Regions from separate parts of the Homo sapiens genome. Here regions 2, 3 and 4 are each reported to be linked to region 1. Evidence: microRNA targets listed by miRTarBase, many of them from high-throughput screens and not tested one by one. Region 1 holds a microRNA gene; each other region holds the end of a gene's coding sequence.
What was found. Region 1 holds the annotated microRNA hsa-miR-944 (AAAUUAUUGUACAUCGGAUGAG, at 758-779, shown strand). A microRNA usually pairs through its seed, bases 2 to 8, with sites in the 3' UTR of a target mRNA and lowers its output. Matches are read on the target gene's strand: a 7mer-m8 pairs with bases 2 to 8, a 7mer-A1 pairs with bases 2 to 7 and ends in A, and an 8mer does both.

Region 1 (3,000 bases):
CTACAGACCCAAGACCCAACCATCTTAAAAGAGGATTCAGGAAATCATTTAAATGTTTCTTCCTGCTTTCATGCCTTGAACATGCTGTTTCTGAGCAATACACTACAGAGATTGCCCTAATTGACACTAAATATGAGTTTTAAGCATTTATTCTGAAAACTAGACCCATGTAAACAAGTTAGCATCCAACTATCAATTCTTAGAAAATCTACTTTCCCTATATGTCTACTGGATTATTTGTCTCAGATCTTAGGGGAGGAAGTGGAAGAGCTGGAGAACAGCACGTGTTATTTTAGAGTTATAACTGGAAGTATTTGGAATGGCTTCTATGAAAGTTTATTTCACTGAAAATGTGGAAACAGCTTTGGAACTAAGGAATGGGCAGAGACTAGATTTGGAGGAGCAGGGTACTAAAAGCCTAGAGTCTGGCGAGGACTTAGAAGAGAAAAAGATTCTGGAAAGTTTGGAGCTCTTAAAGAAAAATAAAAATTTACTTCACTTCTAACTATTTGGTTGGTGCAAAAATAATTGCAGGTTTTGCCATTACTTTTTCACCAACTAACAAATTCAGTTTCAAAGATTTCTATACTGCTGACAGTTTTTTTCAAATATTAGCCCTTTTAATTATTTCATTACCAGACCAATATAACCTTAATTTTTTTCAACCAAGATAAACAATTTTTCTGCAGTAAATTTGTATTTATGTTCCAGACACATCTCATCTGATATACAATATTTTCTTAAATTGTATAAAGAGAAATTATTGTACATCGGATGAGCTGTGTCTGGGATTAAGTATTAGCTCCACTGTAACCTTCATTTTCTTGAACACTGGAAAGAAAGGCCAACGGTCATTTAGTAGGGTTGGAATAGGATGGGGAATGGGGCTTTGGTGAGAGAGCATTGGACTGTTGGTTATAGAAACACAGTTCAAGTATATCTGGAGTTCAGATTTGAGATCTGACTAGGAGAATCTGTCTAGTGAAAAAAGCTAGACCTTTACAAATTGTAGTCAGGAGCTACCGTTGTAACAGTCTGCCAGAGTTCCTGATACAAAAGATTGATAATTTGTGTGTTTGAAAAACAAAACAAAACAAAACACATCTACCTTCAATTTGACTTACTGCAACTCTGATTTTCATGGCAAGGGATAGAGACAAAATTCATTCTATAAAATTTGAAAAAAAATGTATATCCTGAAACCATTGGAAATTGGATATCAGCATTAATTTTATTGGACTGAAAAACCTCCAGTTTACTAACAGGAGTTGAAAGTCATCACTTTTCCTTTCATCATAGTGAGTTTTCATCACAAACCACAATGATATGCTTATCTCAAATATATTCATTTACTTGTTTTACACAAGTATCATTTCTGTTTACATAACACGCAATTTTGTTGCTGCTGCTGTTGTTTTATTATGCCTGTCACTTGAGTAAAAGATGGATAAGGTAAGGTCTCCATTTAGAAATGTATAGTCTCTTGGCAGGGAAGACAAATAAAGGCCCATAATTATCATAACAGAAAAATTAATATGTGACGCAAGAAAAAATAAAGATACTATTAAATTTCTTTGGGACTTTGAAGGAGGAAGGGAGCATATAGACACTTAGTAAATATTGTTTGAAGAAGGGAATGAATATGTAAAGGGAGAATAAACCTCACCTATAAGGTCTAGGGCAATTTAAACACAAAGGAGTTGTGTAGGATTATTTAAGGTTTGCAAATGTGTAAAATTATCTCACTACAATACTAGGGAAATGGAAAAACACCAAAGTTCCTCTACCAGCTTTTGCTGGATGAGATGGGCCAGAAGTAGTAACTGCGAGGGCAGCCTGTATTTCTGTTGTTGGTGTGGTTTATCTTCCCAGTGCCAATGCTGCCAACTTCCCCTCAAATAAAAACCCATAGGGGTTCAGAGTCTCATGAGGTGAGAACAGACTTGCACTATCTGTGACAACAACAAAAGCACTTATAATTTTGATGTGGAGGATCCTAATTGAAATCTGCTGTTTGAGGTTCCTTGGGTCCTGCATTCTTTCTTAAATATTTCTACTTGAGTTGGTTATTGATCCTTATTTATTTTCCGTCTAATCGATTGACTTTATAAATCTATTGCAGAGGGCAGATTAAATAGGCAGACAGTTTTCTAATTTGCTGTGAGGGTATTTCTTAATTTACTTTTTAAATACTGATTTTATTTATACATTTATATGCACAGGTCATTTTCATTTCCATGATATCATTCGAGCTTCACAACCACACTCCAAGTTCAGTGTTGTTATCTTCATCTTCATGTTGAGGATGAGGACACGGAAGCTCACAGGTAAAGTGACAAACCCCAGTCTTTAGGCTACTAGATGGTGGAGTTCAGACTCTGATTTTCTGGCCAGGTGCTCATTTGATGATAGCAGCATGAAGCTCTTCCCATTCTGCACCGTTTGAGCTCCTACCCTTCCTAATCTTCTTTCTCTAATACGAGAACACTGTAATTAAAGTGGTATTTGGCTGATAAGTAGTAGGTTTTGATTTATAACACATAGAGCTGGCAGTGTAATTTTTGTCCCAGAACTTGATGTGCCATGAAAGCTATTATGCTCTTTTTTTTTTTTTTTTTTTTTTTTTTTTTGAGACGGAGTCTCACTCTGTCACCCAGGCTGGAGGGCGGTGGCGTGATATCTCGGCTCACTGCAACCTCCGCCTCCAGGGTTCAAGTGATTCTCCTGCCCCAACCTCCTGAGTAGCTGGGATTATAGGCATGCACCACCACTCCCGCCTAATTTTTGTATTTGTAGTAGAGACAGGGTTTCACCATGTTGGTCAGGCTGGTCTTGAACGCCTGACCTCATCATCCACCTGCCTTGGCCTCCCAAAGTGCTAGGATTACAGGCATGATCCACCACGCCCAGCACTATAATGCTTTTAATAGAGGGAAATGAATCTTCAGATGATGTCAGCATCCTAATTTTTTTTCTCCTCTTGGGGTTTTTCTAAATGAC
Region 2 (3,250 bases), not on the chromosome of region 1:
CCTTTTACTTCTATAAGATTGACAGTATTGTCCCTACTTCCATTCCTTATTTTAGTAATTTGAGTCTTTTCTCCTTTTTCCTTGATCAGTCTAGCTAAAAGTTTATTAATTTTGATTTTTTCAAAGAACAAACTTTAGGTTCCATAGATTCCATTGTTTTCGTGTTCTCAATTTCATTTGTTTTTGTTCTCATCTCTTATTTTCTTCCTTCTGCTGGCCGTGGATTTAGCTTTTTAGTTTTCTCTTCTTGTTTTAGTTCCTCAAAGTATAAAGTTAGGTTATTAGTTTGAGAGCTTTCTTTTTTAAAATGTAGGCATCTCCAAATATAAATTCCCCACTGAGGGCTTTTGCTTTCGCTACACTTAACAAGTTTTGTTATTGTTGTGTTTTCATTTTCACTCATTTTAAAATATTTTAAAATTCATCTTCAAAATATTTCCCTAGTGATTTCTTCTTTGATTCATCTGCTGTTTAAAGAGTGTATTGTTTTATTTCTACATAGTATTTGTGAATTCTCCAGATTTTCTTGTTGTTGATTTTTAATTTCATTCCATTGTAGTCGAGATACTTTTTCAACTTTTAAAATTTATTGAGACCAGATTTGTGGCATAACATTGGTCTGTTTTGCACAATGTTCTGTGTACACTTAAGAAGGTGTATTCTCCTTTGGGTGGAGTATGCTACATATTTCTTTAGGTCTAATTGCTTTATAGTGTTATTCTGAACGTTTCTGTGAGGATGTTTTTGGGTGAGATCAGCATTTAAATCAGTGGACTTAAAGCAGATTGCCTTCTCTAATGTGAATGGGTTTCATCCAATGAATTGAAGTCCTAGATGGAAAGACTCACCTACCCCAGCAAAGGGAAATTCTGATGCAGACAGCCTTTGAACTTGAACTGCAGTGGCAGTTATCTCCCTGGGTCTTTAGTGTGATGGCTTTCGGACTTGAACTCATCAGCTCTTCCCTTCCCTGGTCTCCAGTCTGCTGGCCCACCCTACAAGTTTGGACTTGCCCCCACAACCATGTGAACCAATTCTTGAAAGTAAATCTTTATATACACACACATCCTATTGGTTCTATTTCTCTGGAAAACCCTAATTCTCCTACCTATAGAATATATGAAATTGTTGTAAAACTATAATCATTTAAATGAAAGAGTATTTGGAAAGTTTAGAATTAAATCTATCTATCTATCTATCTATCTATCTATCTATCTATCATCTATGTATGTATATATGCAGATGCTCCTTGACCTACAACGGGGTTACAATTCGATATACCCATAAGTTGAAAATATTAAGTCAAAAATGCATTTAATACACCTAACCTAATGAACATTATAGCTCAGCCTAGCCTGCCTTAAATGTGCTCAGAAAACTTACATTGGTTTACTACTGGGCAAAATCATCTAACACAAAGTCTATTTTGTCATAAAGTGTTGAATATCTTATGTGATTTATTGAGTACTGTACTGAAAGTGAGAAACAGAATGGTCATATGGGTACTTGAAGTACAGTTTCTACTGAATGCATACTGTCTTTGTACCACTGAAAAGTCGAAAAATCATTAAGTCAAACCATTGTTATGTCAGAGACCATCTGTATATGTACATATAATTAACCATAAAATTATATATAAAATTATACATAAGGGAATTAAGAATTCCTGAGGTTTCTTTTTTCCTCTTATTTATTTCCCCCACTTTTTTTTGAGACAGGGTCTTGCTGTGTTGCCCAGGCTGGAGTGCAGTAGTATGATCACAGCTCAACTACAGCCTCGACCTCCTTACTGGGCTCAGATGATCCTATCACCTCAGCCTCCAGAGTAGCTGGGACTACAGGTGTGCACCATCATGCCCAGCTAATTTTTTGTATTTTTTTGTAGATATGGGGTTTTGCCATGTAGCCCAGGCTGGTCTCGAATTCCTGGGCTCAAGCGATCCACCCGCCTCAGCCTCCCAAAGTGCTTTTTACTCCCTTTTGATAACATCCTGTTACCTATAGAGAGTAAGAAATTTAAGGATAAATCACTGCAGTTTTATTTAAAATTTTAGACAAAATTTAAATCATGTATATAAATACAAAGATGAACATTGGTTCTTTAAACACTGACAAAATCCTGAAACAATATAATGTATATATTTTAAGCCACATTTCCTATTTTTACAACATAGTTTACAACCTTCCCATTTTTACAACATAGTCTAAAACTAAGTTTATAAAAAAAAGTACATAGGAAAATATGATTGAAGCATTCTCAAATACATGGCTCTGAGGGTAGATTACTTGTTTTTTATCATTTAATCCATATACAATGCAGCAAATAGATACATTAATTATAACATTTTCCTTCAATTAATAGTTTATTCACTGTCATAGAAGCTCCATGAAGGGGCATCACTTAAGAAGCTCTCCAGGTTAGAGTCAAGCAAATTCTGAACACTTGGTCAAAGGCACATGAAAATGCCAGGTCCTGGCACAATGAGTAAATAACCCAGAAGGTGATATATGTCAGATCAAGACAATCTTAAGCACCATAGTAACTTTTGAGGCAAGTGGCACCGTACTCTTATTAAAGACAAGTCTTTACTGTTGAGGGCACTGGGTCTCTGGAGTAGATTTAGAAGACACATATAGAATAGGGTGTAATTTCTTACAAGTTTCTTTTTCCAATTTGCTTGAAGTTTCTTTTCCTTCTTTAACTTCTGTTTGAAGCTTTGATTCAGCAGCTAACCTACAGGCATTAAAGCATCCACTCTGAATTCAAATGTGGTTATGAAGGATTGAAGAAACAAACCCCCAGTATAATGGGCCTCCAATAAGGCATGGTATTCAAGGAAAAAAAATATAGTTGACTCTAATACTGTAAGAATATTAAGTCACTGGCTGTCTAAAAGTCTTTTTATATCAATAGGCTCAATTATTGTTATTATTACTTTTTGAGACAGAGTCTCACTCTGTCACCAGGCTGGAGCGCAGTGGCATGATCTCGGCTCACTGCAACCTCCGCCTCCCGGGTTCAAGCGATTCTCCTGCCTCAGCCACCGGAGTAGCTGGGACTATAGGTGCGCACCCCCACATGCAGCTAATTTTCGTATTTTTAGTAGAGACAGGGTTTCACCACGTTGGTCAGGATGGTCTTGATCTCTTGACCTCGTGATCCACCTGCCTCAGCCTCCCAAAGTGCCGGGATTACAGGTGTGAGGCACCACGCTGGGCCAATTATTTTTTAAGTCTAAAGAATATCTTT
Region 3 (3,250 bases), not on the chromosome of region 1:
GTCCCAATAAATGTTGACAGATTAAATATAAAAGCAGTAATATCTTTTATTTAAAAAGTTCATCTTAGAAGAAAATTCAAAAGGGATACAATAAACTTTTCCATATCCCAAAAACTTGTGCCCAAGACAAAAAGAGGGAAGAATTTAAGTTTAGGGGTACATATGCAGGTTTGTTACACAGGTAAACTTTTGTGTCATGGGGATTTATTATACAGATTATTTCATCACCCAGGTATTAAGCCTAGTACCCATTAGTTATTTTTCCTGTTCCTCTCCCTCCTCCCACCCTCCACCCTTTGATAGGCCCCAGTACATGTTGTTCCAAGAGGGAAAAATTTAAAAAACATATGCAGTTAAATAACCATAATGAATAGTTTTCCTAGAAAAAAAAATATTGCCTTTTAAAAAAAATCAAATATGTACTACTTTAAAGGTTGCAACCATCTCATATTGAAAATTAAAGATGTTCCTTCCTAAAATTTTACATTAATCAATTAAATGTTTATGTTAGAAAATTTAACATTAATAGAATAAAAACTGTTTTAGAAACATCACCAAGAACACTGTTGTGGCACATGTTTGCAAATATTGCAATTCCTGCAACATCATATGTATTGAAAAGTCTGGAAAGCCCATGTGGCTGAGAGTTAAATTTATATACTGAAGTAAAACCTGGGAATATTCATCATGCCAATTATAGTTCAATTATTTTATCAGACAGAACTCTGAGAGCAAATTAAAATTTTAAAATTTTACCTATTCCATAGACTGAATTTTTCTAGGTACTATTTTAATACAAATTATTATTATAGCAAAATTCTGAACACTTTTTGGTTGTTAGTATATTTTAAAAGTATTAATATTTCTTTTTACCTCTTAAATATAAAGAAAGCTTCAATTCAGCCTTCTATTCATCCAGATACATTGCATGTATATGTGTTAAAAAAACGACTAGGCAATTAGATTTACTTATCTTACTTTATTCATAAATAAGAATTTTCCTAAGTGCAGTGAGGGGTAGGAGACATGGAAACCTTTCTCATACTTATAGGTGATATTAAACTGAAATATATAACTGCCTTTTGGGAACAGTATTTTTTCTGTTTTCTATGAATTACCCATAAGCATAGCAAAACCAAGATAAATTTAAATTTAATATTGTTAAAGAGCACTGTTCAAGATAAACTTTCATGTATATCACAGTATAGCATTATACAATGATTTTACGTAAAAATATTTAGAAGCACAGTGATGATTTTAAGAAGCCATAAAACATTTTAATGAAATATAAGAAAGTCATGAATATTTATGTGGATATGTATGTTGCAAATTTAAGGTAAATCAACATAGGATAAACACAGAAGATTACATACAAACCCTACATATTTTATTTCTGGTGAAACATATAAACACTTTCCTACTATAGTACAAAATCAATTAGTTCCTCTACCAGCACTAAAGACTTGTCATCTAAATATATTCATTTTAGGGGAGAAAAAAATGCTTCACATTTTTCTAAAATAAAGACTGCAATAAATTAGTGCTTTAAAAAATATATATATATAGGATATAGATCCTAAGAAAATAAAACTAAAGTATAAAAAATGAATAGCATTTCTTTTCCTGCCATCATATCCTTTCTTATCTCATTCCTACATAGAATGAATGATAAGCTAAATTATTTAGACATGTATGGTGACTGAAAGCAATGTCTTCAAGGAAACAGCTTCTTGTTTAGCCTCTTACTCTACCATACTTAGAGTAAAAATCAAAGGATATTTTAGAAATATCTTGTAACTATTGTTGTAGCAATAATCTGTCTTGTTAGAACAACACAATAAAAATGACCTAGAGAATTCCATGAACAATGATACTTGGATTACAAGAGAGCTAAAAATCAGAGGCTATTCCTGTGTGCAAACTATTTTTACCAGTCTAAATACTATATGGTTTACCACTGAACACCCAAGTTTGACTGAAGTGAACATTTGCTACTATCAGTAAAAAACTCCCTCTCTTACAGGAATGGCAGAAATATAGACATTTAGTCATCAAAAATGGCACAATGTACATCACACAAATGATTATATTATGGTTCATAAGGAAAACAGCCACAATTTTGATCAGAGAAATGTTAATACATATGAAGCCTTAAAACAGCAACATGGCGGGGAAGGAGAGGGAGGCGGGAACCTAATGCATTTGAATTAAAGGAAACAGGCAATATTTGGTCGATGTAAACAATGCTATTTAACGAGTGCTTTATCTACTTTACTGAAATACGGAAATACTTATGTACACGATTTAAATGTGCACAAGACTTGGGCTTTTTTCTTCTAGACTATGTACATCATTCAGCACACAATTCAAAAAGTTCTGGTGTATTCAACACACTCCCAGTAAGATTATGTTACACTGAAACATATAATATTAAACTTTCAAGAGACTGCTTTTGATGCTAAGGAGTAATCTATTTTTACAAGAATGCTCAATGGTGGTGATTTCTAGAATATCTTTTTCAATATCACCAAAAATAAGATAAAATTTATTTTAAAATTATGATTTAGAGGTAGAGCTGAAATTATTTATTTAAATTATAGGAAAGAAAGACATAAAATCATTGTGAGAGAATAATGGTGAAAAACATTCTTGCCTAAGAGTCTCCATCTTCTTTGGCTATAGTTGTTGTTTCAAGTTGAAACAGCATCACTAGTATTGCTGCCTTCGAACATTTTGTTTCTGGAAAAAAGCCTTTCCAAATTCATATGTACTGATCATAATGGCACAAGCAGGAGCAATTTTAATTAAGCGAGGAATTAGGCCTGAGAAAAGAATAGGAATAATCAAAACAAATATTTTTTTCTTACCTTATTTTTAAAAATATTATTTTTTGGCTTTATTCTGATAATTATCAAATTAAATGAAGTAATATGTTCAAATCCATAAATTGGTAGAAAAGACTGCTCACTTCCAACATCCTCACTTCAATCCATATTACATTATAGAGAAATTTTTATCTTATTGATAGTAAATCTTTTATTTAACATTTATTTTAACTTATAATAAAGATATTTAGGAGAAAATAAATGTAGTATGTTACCTATAACTTCCTCCTATAAGTTAATTTTAGAAGGTAATATTTTAAAAGTAATCATTCTATTCAATGATTCGGTAAAGCAAGTATTTTTACCTGAAAATAATCCGGAAAATCCATTTTTAGCAACAATGTTCTTCATTATAATCCAGGTTG
Region 4 (3,250 bases), not on the chromosome of region 1:
CTGAATGGACCCTTCCTCTAGGCCAAGGGCATTCCAGAGTTCATCTGAAAAACCAGTTTCAGGCCATCATGGGGAAGGGAGAGCCAGACATGCCTCATTATACTTCTCCTCCCTTTTGAAATTACTGATAGAACACACTCTTAATAAGAAGCATTTACAGTCTATTTTCTCTGAAGCCTGCTACCTGAAGGCTTCATCTGCATGATAAAACCTTGGTCTCCAACAAACCTTGTATCAACCTAGACGTTCCTTTCTATTTATAGTAACTCTTTCAACCAATTGCCAATCAGAAAATCTTTAAATCTGCCTAAGGCTTGGAAGCTTTCCCCACACCTGCTTCCAGTTGTCCCACCTTTCTGGACTGAACCATGTATACATCTTACATGTATTGTCTGATGTCTCATGTCTCCCTAAAATGTATAAAAACAAGCTGCACACCGACCACTGTATGCACTTGTTCTCAGGATCTCCTAAGGGCTGTGTCACAAGCCACTCATCACTCATATTTGGCTTAGAATAAATCTCTTCAAATATTTTACAGAGTTTGACTCTTTGCATCGACAGTCCTGAACTCTGCTTTTGTAGTGTGAGGACCCACATGTTAAATAGGATACTTCTTGATCTTCAATATGCTTAGAGAACAGAAATCTAAACCAACAAATAGCAAAGGCCACAGCACAAAATTTATTGAGATTATTTACTAAATAACTGATATACATCCAACATCACTGAATGGAAATAATTTAAAAATAAGCAAGGCTTAAATTGGGGTCTTTCAAAAAACTCAAAACATTCTTGGTGACTGTATCTTTAACAAATGGAATGACAAAACTAGTTAAGTCATATTATCTCAATCAACTCCAAAACTCAATGTTGCCAACATGTTTTTCTACTTAAAAGCAAACAAAAAGCAAAGCCTCATAATTTAGTAATTACCATGTTTCTTGGTTTCTGTTCTCAAATGCCACAGAAAGATACCTGATGAAAGGAAGCAAAGCACCTAGTCTCATCAGTCTTCTTCAAAACTTTAAGGTTGCTTTCACAATCTCACTATAAATATTTAGATTCCTATCTGACAGATTTCTTCACTTATGTGAGTAGGAATGCTCTCGAAACCTTAGTCTTTACTCTTGCTTCATACTAGAGCTGTTTGATTAAACCACCTCTGTATTTGCTGGCCTGCAACACTAGATAAGAACTCATTCCTATCTCTTCCAAGAAACCAAGATAATCTCAATATGAATTTTAGTGGCCAATATGTTATAGTACTTAGCAATACTTTGTTTTCTAATGGCAAGTATGTTGAAAAATTTATCATTAAGTGAATTTCATAACACATAGAAATAAATGATTCTATTAAAATATAAAAACATCCATTAACTTGTCCTATTTCCAGTGACTTTAAATATCAAATCTATTATACAAAGACAAAATTATTTGCCCTATTTGACCCTGTGTACCAAATGATGTAAGTGCTGAAAATAAGAAACATTTTAAGATTTTAAATCTCATATTAAGAACCTCGGATACCACTTAGCATTGTGACAGAAGAAAAAAAAGTAAGGCGAAAACAAATTCCTCAGAGATTTTTAAAGGAAGAATTGGTGTAAAAGAATATTCCTTTGGACTCTATAGCCTTTTAAAAATCATTTATCTTTCGGTGCTTCAACATGATGCCAAACAAAAATCTACTGAATAAAAATAGCAAGGAAGGGAATCAAACATTTATAAGATATATTTATTATTTTTCTGACCAAAGTGCAATGATTTTTAAATCTTTTTAAACAAATAACTATGAAAAAAGTATTCAAGAAAATAAAATACAAATGGGAAATTTAACTAGATTGCTTCTTCTAATTAATCCTAAGCTTTTATTAAGTCTAGAAAACAAACAAAAAAAAACCTTTGAAGTGTTACTAAAATGCTAACTGAGAATCATTTTAGCATAAATCTAGCCACATGCATTTCAAGGTTCCACTGCTACGAATTTTGTTAAGATCAGCTGAATCATGAATAACACTATATAATAGAGTATAAGGAACACAAGCATTAGATGTGATCCTTGCCCCATACCCTTAGATTATGTCAGACTAAAGCTGACAATTCTGCCAGGCTCTGAACCCCTAGTGCCCCCAACCCAAATCTTGGAAGCAAAGAATATGCCCTGTCATACAACTTTGTACAAGTTGTAGTAAAACAAAGCTTAAGTTTTCTCATCTTTCTACAGCAAATGGTCAGTTATTTAATAAACACTAAAATGCTCCTAAGAATCCATTTTGAGTTTGTTTACCAAACACATTGTGCAAGAACTGACTACACAAAAAGTTCCTTTGAAATTTGGTCCACAAATTCACTTAAGGTTGGAAATTTAAAACTTGCAAGAAAAAGAGGAAGCGGGTATCCCTAAATCCTAAAATGTTGTGATTACTAGAGGGATATATACGCGTACTAAAAAGTTTTGCTCACAGAAGGCACAAACTATAAAAGGGATATTCTTTTTGAATTTTAAAAAAAATAGCTGATACCCTTCGTTTGGTGAGCACCATAACTAAGGTGAAGTTAAACCTGAATTCACTGTCTACTCCTGTGACCAAAAAAAAGAACATAAAAAAATTTACTTTGTTTTACCATGTACTTTCCAGCCACTAATTGAGATGTAGTTATGAAAGATTAGAATTGCCTTAAAAAGGGGTCATGATAGCAGCTATCAAAGCAATATTCAAGCATGATTTCAAGGATGCCTTCAGGTTTAGAATTAGCCTTCCTTGTCAAAAATCTGCACAACTTCATCAAAAACCTGTAAAGGAAAAAGATGATAATAATTTTAAAAGCAGGTACTGTTAAAATACCATACAGCTAAGTTCTTATTAAAAATAATCAAATTTGGCGGGGCGCGGTGGCTCACATCTGTAATCCCAGCACTTTGGGAGGTCGAGGCGGGCAGATCACTTGAGTTCAGGAGTTCAAGACCAGCCTGGCCAACATGGCAAAACCCCGTCTCTACTAAAAATACAAAAATCAGCCAGGCGTGGTGGCGGGCACCTGTAATCCCAGCTACCCAGGAGGCTGAGGCAGGAGAATTACTTGAACCCAGGAGACGGAGGTTGCAGTGAGCTGAGATCACACCATTGCACTCCAGCCTGGGCAACAGAGTGAGACACTGTCTCAAAAAATATATATAAATAAAATAATATAAAAAATAAAGACTCCATCTCCAAACAGGGTCACACACAAAAAAATCAAATTTACA

Region 2: miRTarBase lists SPDL1 as a target of hsa-miR-944. Seed matches in the 3' UTR shown: 7mer-A1 at 2,334-2,340.
Region 3: the mRNA of SLC25A40 is a reported target of hsa-miR-944. Seed matches in the 3' UTR shown: 7mer-m8 at 2,580-2,586, 7mer-m8 at 1,677-1,683, 7mer-m8 at 799-805 and 7mer-m8 at 704-710.
Region 4: miRTarBase lists CMPK1 as a target of hsa-miR-944. Seed matches in the 3' UTR shown: 7mer-m8 at 1,432-1,438.

The regions. Positions count from the first base shown.
Region 1 is chr3:189,829,218-189,832,217 of GRCh38, forward strand. It overlaps MIR944 (microRNA 944), which reads left to right and starts at 705; the gene lies at 705-792. All of the region lies in intron 4 of TP63 (tumor protein p63), which reads left to right.
Region 2 is chr5:169,603,544-169,606,793 of GRCh38, reverse strand. It overlaps SPDL1 (spindle apparatus coiled-coil protein 1), which reads right to left. Exons shown (of 12, transcript NM_017785.5): 12 at 2,016-2,734. The coding sequence ends at 2,587. Among named protein-coding and RNA genes, the nearest start is that of SPDL1, 21 kb to the right of the region's middle.
Region 3 is chr7:87,833,540-87,836,789 of GRCh38, forward strand. It overlaps SLC25A40 (solute carrier family 25 member 40), which reads right to left. Exons shown (of 12, transcript NM_018843.4): 11 at 3,191-3,250; 12 at 29-2,822. The coding sequence ends at 2,710. Among named protein-coding and RNA genes, the nearest start is that of SLC25A40, 41 kb to the right of the region's middle.
Region 4 is chr1:47,376,251-47,379,500 of GRCh38, reverse strand. It overlaps CMPK1 (cytidine/uridine monophosphate kinase 1), which reads right to left. Exons shown (of 6, transcript NM_016308.3): 6 at 662-2,797. The coding sequence ends at 2,756. Among named protein-coding and RNA genes, the nearest start is that of FOXE3, 38 kb to the left of the region's middle.